Regions from separate parts of the Homo sapiens genome. Here regions 1 and 3 are each linked to region 2. The links come from fine-mapping of genetic effects on gene expression. A gene starts in region 2. Each other region holds a variant in brackets. All regions are shown on one strand. Distances are from middle to middle. Region 1 has its middle 45 kb from the start of MYOZ2. Region 2 holds the start of SYNPO2 (synaptopodin 2). Region 3 overlaps SYNPO2 (synaptopodin 2).

What was found. PIP is the estimated chance that this variant, and not a neighbour inherited with it, causes the effect.
Region 1: its variant is fine-mapped to the expression of SYNPO2 in subcutaneous fat (GTEx, PIP 0.97).
Region 3: its variant is fine-mapped to the expression of SYNPO2 in fibroblasts (GTEx, PIP above 0.99). The same link has a PIP of 0.9 or more in monocytes, monocytes after LPS, monocytes after Pam3CSK4 and monocytes after R848.

What each region holds. Positions count from the first base shown.
Region 1 is chr4:119,089,214-119,091,981 of GRCh38, reverse strand. No RefSeq gene overlaps it. Among named protein-coding and RNA genes, the nearest start is that of MYOZ2, 45 kb to the left of the region's middle. The variant C/T (reference allele first, on the strand shown) is at 1,353.
Region 2 is chr4:118,887,116-118,889,883 of GRCh38, reverse strand. SYNPO2 (synaptopodin 2) reads right to left here and starts at 1,030. Exons shown (of 5, transcript NM_133477.3): 1 at 743-1,030. The coding sequence starts at 847.
Region 3 is chr4:119,024,346-119,027,113 of GRCh38, reverse strand. It overlaps SYNPO2 (synaptopodin 2), which reads right to left. Exons shown (of 5, transcript NM_133477.3): 3 at 1-487. Among named protein-coding and RNA genes, the nearest start is that of SYNPO2-AS1, 41 kb to the right of the region's middle. The variant T/C (reference allele first, on the strand shown) is at 1,081.

The DNA.
Region 1 (2,768 bases), 200 kb before region 2:
GAATAATATAATGTGCATTTTTATAATATTATTCCAGCCTCAATATGAAGAACTGACTGGAGATGCAGGCAGCGAGACCTTTTGACTCTATTGCAGTTGTCTCAGGGAAAGGTGATAAGGGCCTGATCAAATGCTGTGACAATGGCGGCAAGCAGGGCCAGGTATTCTGAGATGAGAGATACTAAGAAGATGAAGTTCACAGAGATTGGTGATTGATGCATTGAATAAGGGCCGGGGTTAGGGAGAAACTAGGGTAATGCTTCTAGTCCTGACATAGGCAGTTGGGTGGTTGCGTGGTGGTACCAGGCACTCAGTGGAGACCATAGGAGAAGGAGCAGGCTCTGCAGGAAAGGGTCTCATCTGAAAGTGTTAGATCTAAGGTGTCTGAGAATCCCTCAAGTGATAAGGACTAGTGAGTAAACAGATTCAGGGCTGGAGCTGAAAAGATATTTGAAATTGGGTTTGGACATTAATTATCTGTCACCACCCTGTAAGTGGAAGCAACTTAGGTAATTGTTCATTAGATTACCCAGGGAGGGCCATCAAAGCAGGGGTTGACAAAGCTAGCAGAAGACAAGAAATAACCCAAATCAGAGCTTAACTGAAGGAGATAGAGACATGAAAAGTCTTTCAAAAGATCAATGCATCTAGAAGCTGTTTATTTTTTAAAAATTAGTAAGATAGACCACTAGTTAGGCTAATAAGGAAAAAAAGAGAGAAGATTCAAATAAACACAATTAGAAATGACAAAGGGGATATTACCACTGACCCCACAGGAATACAAACAACCATCAGAGGATATTATGAACACCTCTATGCATATACACTAGAAAATCTAGAAAAAATGAATAAATCGTTGGACACATACACCCTCCCAAGACTGAACCAGGAAGAAATTGAATCCCTGAACAGACTAATAACAAGTTCTGAAATTGAGGCAGTAATAAATAGCCTACCAACTAAAAATAGCCCAGGAGCAGACAGATTCATAGCTGAATTCTACCAGATGCTCAAAGAAGAGCTGGTACCATGCCTACTGAAACTATTCCAAAAAATTGAGAAGGAGAGACCCCTCCCTAACTCATTGTATGAGGCCAGCATCATCCTGATACCAAAACCTGGCAGAGATACAACGATAAAAGAAAAATTCAGGCCAATATCCTTGATGAACATTGATGGAAAAATTTTACACAAAATACTGGCAAACCAAATCCAGCAGTACATTAAAAAGCTTATCTACCACAATCAAATAGGCTTTATCCCTGGGATGCAAGATTGGTTCAACATATGCGAATCAATAAATGTGATTCATCACATAAACAGAACTAATGACAAAAACTAGATGATTATCT[C/T]AATAGATGCAGAAAGGGCTTTTGACAGAATTCAACATCACTTCATGGTTTAAAAAAAAACTCAATAAACTAGGTATTGGAAGAACATACCTCAAAATAATAAGCCATATATGACAAACCCACAGTCAACATCATACTGAATGGGCAAAAGCTGGAAGTATTCCCCTTGAAAACCGGCACAAGTCAAAGATGCCCTCACTCACCACTCCTGTTCAACACAGTAATAGAAGTCCTGGCCAGGGCAATCAGGCAAAAGAAAGAAATAAAGTCCATCCAGATAAGAAGAGAGGAAGTCAAACTATCCCTGTTTGTAGATGATAGGATTCTATATGTAGAAAACCTCATAGTTTCAGCCCAAAACCTTAAATTGATAAACAACTTCAGCAAAGTCTCAGAATACAAAGTCAATGCTCAAAAATCACTAGCATTCCTATACACCAACAACAGTCAAGCCAAGAGACAAATCAGGAACATAATCCCATTCACTATAGCCACAAAAAGAATAAAATACCTAGGAATACAGCTAACTAGGAAGGTGAACAATCTCTAGAAGGAGAACTACAAAACACCACTCAAAGTACTCAGAGATGACACAAACAAATGGAAAAACATTCCATGCTCATGGATAGGAAGAATCAATAGTGTTAAAATGGACATATTGCACAAAACAATTTATAGATTCAATGCTCTTCCTGTTAAACTACCATTGAGATTCTTCACAGAACTAGAAAAAATTATTTTAAGATTCATATGGAACTAAAAAAGAGCCCACATAGCCAAGGCAATCCTAAACAAAAAGAACAAAGCTGGAGATATCACACTACCTGGTCAAACTATACTACAGGGCTACAGTAACCAAAACAGCACGGTACAGGTACAAAAACAGAGATACATAGACCAATGGAACAGAATAGAGAACACAACAATAAAGCCACACACCTACACCTATCTGATCTTTGACAAACCTGACAAAAACAAGCAATGGGGAAAAGATTCCCCATTCAATAAATGGTGCTGGGATAACTAGCTAGCCATATGTAGAAGATTGAAACTGGACCCCATCCTTATACCACATACAAAAATTAAATCAAGGTGGATTAAAGACTTAAACATAAAACCTAATACTATAAAAACCCTGGAAGACAACCTAGGCAATACTTTTCAGGACATAGGCACAGGCAAAGATTTCATGATGAAGATGCCAAAAGCAATTGCAACAAAAGCAAAAATTGACAAGTTTGATCTAATTAAATTAAAGAGCTTCTGAAAAGCAAAAGAAACTATCAACAGAGTAAAAAGACAATCTACAGAATGGGAGAAAATTTTTGCAAAATATGCATCTGACAAAGGTCTAATATTCAGCACCTACAAGGAACTTAAACAAATTTACAAAAAAACAAACAACCCCACTAAAAA
Region 2 (2,768 bases):
GCTAACCAGTAATGCAGGCAATCTAATGGCAATAAAAACTTAAAGCATTTTAAATAGTTATTAATGTGTTACAAAGTTACCTCTTAGTTACTCATAATATATTTAGATTATCTTCTAAGTTTATTTTTGAGATCTTGACCAAAAGAGTACATAAGAAGGAATACAGCATTTATTGGATTTTTGCATTTATTTGTCAAATCCTTAAAAGGGTATTCTTTTAAATAGATTTTATGACACTTCATCATACTTTTAAAATTATTGCCCAACATTGGCCTTTTCATGAATGCTGCATAATAAATGTCACTACCAACACTCTATATGAGTCCCCAAAATAGCCAAGCAAAGTCGTTATGCTGAACTGAGCGTTTCTCCTCTGCCAGAGCCAAGTGAAGTGACATCAAACAATAACTCAACTGAACATTCTAAAATTGCCTGGAAGAAACGCTCCCCAGTGTCTTGCTTGTTGTCAGAAGAACATGGTTAACTAGGCCTTTTCCTCAGCTGATAAATATGGCATTCTTCCCACCCACCCCTCATCGATTGCAAGTTAATTACATAGGATGTGGCCCATTACTCTCCAAAGTTTCTTAGAAAATAACTCACTTCCTAGAAAAATCTTAATATCCGCAGCAAAATCAAATAATACTTAGACTTCTGCATCAGAACCTGAAAACACCATCAGCAGGTTGCTTTCATTCCTTCCTTCCTAGCACAGAGCCGTGACACTTCGTTCAGGTCCTACCTTTGCAACTTGTAAGGGCTGCTTCTGCTCCTTGCCACCTTGCAATCTGAACCCCCAGGGCGCCCCTCCAGTCATGGAAATGCAGATAAAATCCCCTGTGCCCATGTTTTCCTTTTAGTTGGGCAGCATGAAGAGCTTGACGAGACAGACGAAGCTTGGGTGCGGTAGAGGATGCGCACTCAGCTTCGGGCGCCTGCCGAGGACGCAAGACTGGGTAATGCAGAGCGTCCGCCGCTGCTGCAGCCGCTGCCCCAGCCGCCGCCCCAGCCGCCTGCTGCGAATTTGTGCGGCTAATGGGCTCATTCTCAAGGAGGCAGAGGCGCTCGCAGCATCCAGGACACAGCCCACTCTTGCGTCACTCTCCTTTGCTCGGCCCACCTTCGAGGAAAGGAAAGCAGCTTCACACACAGGAGAATGTCCTCACGTGGGGCGAGATAAGGGAAAGGAGGACGGAAGGGAGAGCCAAAGTTATCTTGCACTAACAGATTAAATCCAAGCAGTTAATGGTATAAGTATGATTGAAAAACTTACATTTAATAATTCTGTAAATAGTAAAGGACACATGAAGGTTTAATCTCCACGCCATGAATGACGTCCTAAAATAGGAGCGTTGGGAATTCAACTACTAGAGGATTAGATTCTCTCAAATAAATGTTTTGAGACTTGCCACATTTATGAATGGAATAGACAAAAAAGAGTTAAAATGAGTTAAATTACTACTTTTCTGTCTGCATTCTGCTGAATTATTCCTATAAGAGGAAACAAAAGAAAGCACAAACTTTTTGTTAATAAACCTCCAGCTCTGAAAAGTACCTTTCTGAACCATATATTTAGAGAAAGGGGAAGAGAAGAGACAGAAAGGGAGAGAGAAAGAGAGAAAATGAATATGAATTTTTCTCCTGGAAACTACATTCTTATAATTACATCTATTGCATAGTTTTGGGTATGTTAAATTTTAACGTGTTTTGTTTTCTTTCTACCTGCTGATCTTCTTAAACCCAAACCCAACAGTTAGTCAACTGCATAAAATGTACAATGTCACCTACAGGTTTCTTATTTTTATAGTTTGTCATCCCATGTCATGAATCTGGGTGGTCCAATATAAAAGCAGATTTTGTATATTCCAAATATTTAAATGTTTTAAATCTGAATACAATCTGCCAAAAATGTACAAAAAGGACATTTTAATTTTCCTATAATACTTTTGTTTTCCATAACATTCATCCACATAAAAACATACTAAATAAGGAAGAGCCTGGGAAAGTTTGTTTGTGTTACTTGTGGTACCAAACAAAATTTCCAGACACGCTGCCTGTTTCAGCACTAAGAAGCACTATATACAGTAAGTCCTCACTTAAAACGTCACAGATAGGTTCATGGAAACTGTGACTTTAAAACCAATTTTACCATCGACTAATTGATAAAAACAAGGTTAAGTGACTACAGTCTATTTCTGGTCACAAAGACATCACCAAACTTTTAAATAAGATTAAAACACTTCTAATATTAAACATGGAAATAAATGTCAGCTACACATGCATTTAAGAAAGATTAATAAAAACAAGATAATCATGGACCCAATTTTTGGTGAATCAGTGAGTGAGGGCAGCTGTAGTGGTGGTGGATTCAATCAAGGAATAAATGTTTGCAAAAGGAAAATTATAAGGAGTACCTCCTGTCACAATGCAGTTCAAAACCACCACAAATATAGCAGGCTCACTGAGAAATTTCATACAGCATCATCTATTGCTGTGCATTTGTGTGATTAACATATATTTTATGAATTTTTTTTGAAAATAATTTGCATCCATACATTCATTCCTCCTCCAACCCACTTATTCCCATTCAGGATCTCCAGTGGCTTGAGCCTCTCCCTGCAGCTTAGGGCGCAAGGCAGGAATCAGCCCTGGACAGCCCTGACCATCCCATCAGAGGGTGCACACACACACACACACACACACACACACACACACACTCACTCAGATGGGGACCATTTAGACATGCCAGTTCATCTCATGAGCACAGC
Region 3 (2,768 bases), 140 kb before region 2:
CTCATTAGTAGGGATCGAATTTATGTGGACAATCCTGTCATGTGACAAGTTAGGGTCTGGGTCAGGAGACTTAGATTTTTCAGCTCCCGGGAGAGCCACTAAAGGGCCACTAGCGCCCTTATGTCTCTCCTGTGAAAGGGACAGTTGCAGCTCAACCACAGGCCCAGGCTGTACCGCTTCTACCTTCTCCCTTAAGATCAGCTCTTCTGCCACGCGTCCTCTTTGGGAGTCAGGCATTTGGGGAGCCCTTTGGTAGCTCGGGCCTGTTTCTTCTTTCAAGCTGCCTGCACAGTCGGGACCACTTCTTTGGTTCTCAGCTAGGGGAACTTCAGTCTTGACAGGGGCGAGGAAGAATTCTGTGCACTGGGTCTTTGTGGCCGGTCGAATCTGCAGGGTGGTACTTTCCACATAACCCCCATGTGTGAGATGCTCGAGGTTTTTGTTTTCATTTTCAGATATCAAAGCCTCACTTATTCCACTGGATGGTCTGCACACAGAAAAATCATTCCAGACACTTAAATCAGACTATGTTACATCTGCCAAAGAACTTCCTGACACTTTTGTGATGTCTAATATGTGATATAGTCAAAATATTTTCTTCTAAATGTCAGTTGCAACATATTTGAAAACAGAAGGTGGCAACATGTTCATATTATTACTTAAAGAGATACCAAATAAACTTTTTTAAAAGCACAAAGAAACTCTTACACAAGATTATGAAACCTGAATCCATCCTAAATTCAGCTTTTATTTTTAAAAAACTACATGGATCCCGTTTATCTGTAAGTACTTGGAATCTGGGTATCTCTTATAATGAGTTTGCTAGAATGTGACAAAGCATTTCAATGTCTTATTGACTAAGTTTTGGTCTAGACATTATGAAGTCACATAAACATATCCAGCACCTTCAGATCAATCTTAACTTACAGATAACTCAACTAGTCCTTTTAGAGGCTGTGCTTTCTTGAAAGGAATGAAATAGAAGCTGTTTTTTAAGCCCCAGTGAGCATGTGTTTCGTAATAAGTGGACCCAGCCCAGTACTCTTGCGTAAAGAGAAATCCTTTCCGTGCTGCAATGAA[T/C]CATTAAGTCATGGAGTATTTATAATCTGAGATGTCTCCCTTTCTTCTATTTGGATCTGTTTCTTGGAGCATTTTCTTTTTAGGATATCTGAAGTCAAACTGTTCCTTTATCTCTCAGCTAAGGAGCCTAGAGCTGTACACCACAGCTCTTTGATTTTGATCTTCCCAGTTGTCTGTGCAAATTTGGGTTTCTGAGAAGAAGCAATGTCAGTTTAAGAGTTAAATAACTTCTTTCTGAAACTCTAATTTAAACTGTAAATGTTTTTAGAGGTATTATTCACAGAACAGCTGTAGGAAATGCCTTCATTTTTTATATTTGTATTTTTTTTAATTTTGGAAGCAGCATAATTATCTTTGCCCCTTTCCTCCTTCCTTAAAAGACAGTTATGACTCATGCAGGCACGTCAGCTGAAGGGCGTGAGCTTCTACTTGGATTCTACTCAAAGGAATTTACCTTAGAATTTATGTGGTAGTGCAATTTCCGACCAATGCTCAAAATACTTACTCCTACCTTTGCTTTCAACTGCATTTGGCAAAACAAAACTAAACAAAATGAAAACAAACTAACAGTTAAACAAAATGCACCTTTCTCTATACGCAAGTAATTGGAAAAGCTTCCCTGTAATACAGTATTTATACAACATTATAATATCGTATTAAAAAAGCATGATGTTAGCAAATTAGATCATTATTATGTAGAAAATGTTAAATACATTGTTAAACTGAATTTGAGGGTACCAAAAGGTCAGAGAGTTTTAATTTAGGAAGGCCTTGGGATGGAAGTAGATTAAATCACTTTGAATAACGTTAGCAATCAATTGTGAAGCTGAGAAGAGAATAGTTTCAATTCATGCCAGCCTTGTAGACCAATACAGACAAATGGCCAGATAAATATTAACATTTATCAGCAGCTGAAGTAAAATAAATAGACATGAGTAAATATCATAAAAGCATGAGCGAATAAAGCTTTATGCCTTAAAACATTCATTTCCCATCAGTCTACATAGGTATTCATCAAGTCCACAATTTATGTGTCACAATTATAGAATTTTTAAAATCTTATTTTAAGAACATTCAAGATAATAGAGATGGAATGTTAAAGGAGTTATTTTAAAATAGTCTTACTGAGCTATCTCTGGGCAATAGTTCAGGAAAAGTAAAAACACTTGTCCTCTACTGATAGATGACAGTGATATGAGTGACAGAAATATTTATTGCAGGAAACAATATTCAGATATTTAAAATAGTGGTAGTGGTGGTGATGATAATAATTGCTTTTGACTTGATTTTCAATTGAGATTCCACTTTGAATCCTACCAATTAGTTACTTACTTTGTAATTTTTTTTATTTTATAAATTTAATTATGTATTAGTAAATTATGTATTTTATAAACTTATTTTCTCTTCATAACATGAAGGAAGGATTCTAAGGCCTTAAACACTGAGTTTGATGGGTAAATATTTAGATTATAAGAATAATGCTAGATTTCCATTGTTGTCTCAAGATTTTGGCCATAGTGAGTTCATTTTCATCCCGGAACAGAATCATACTGAATGATTAGCAGAGGGGTAACTGTGCGTAGTGTTTCTGCAGAGTTGAGGAAAAACCTGGAGGACCTTGAGGTTCATCTTGAGATGTCCTCTGACATCTTCCTAAAAGCTGCTCTCCAGGAAGCCAAAGCTTTCCT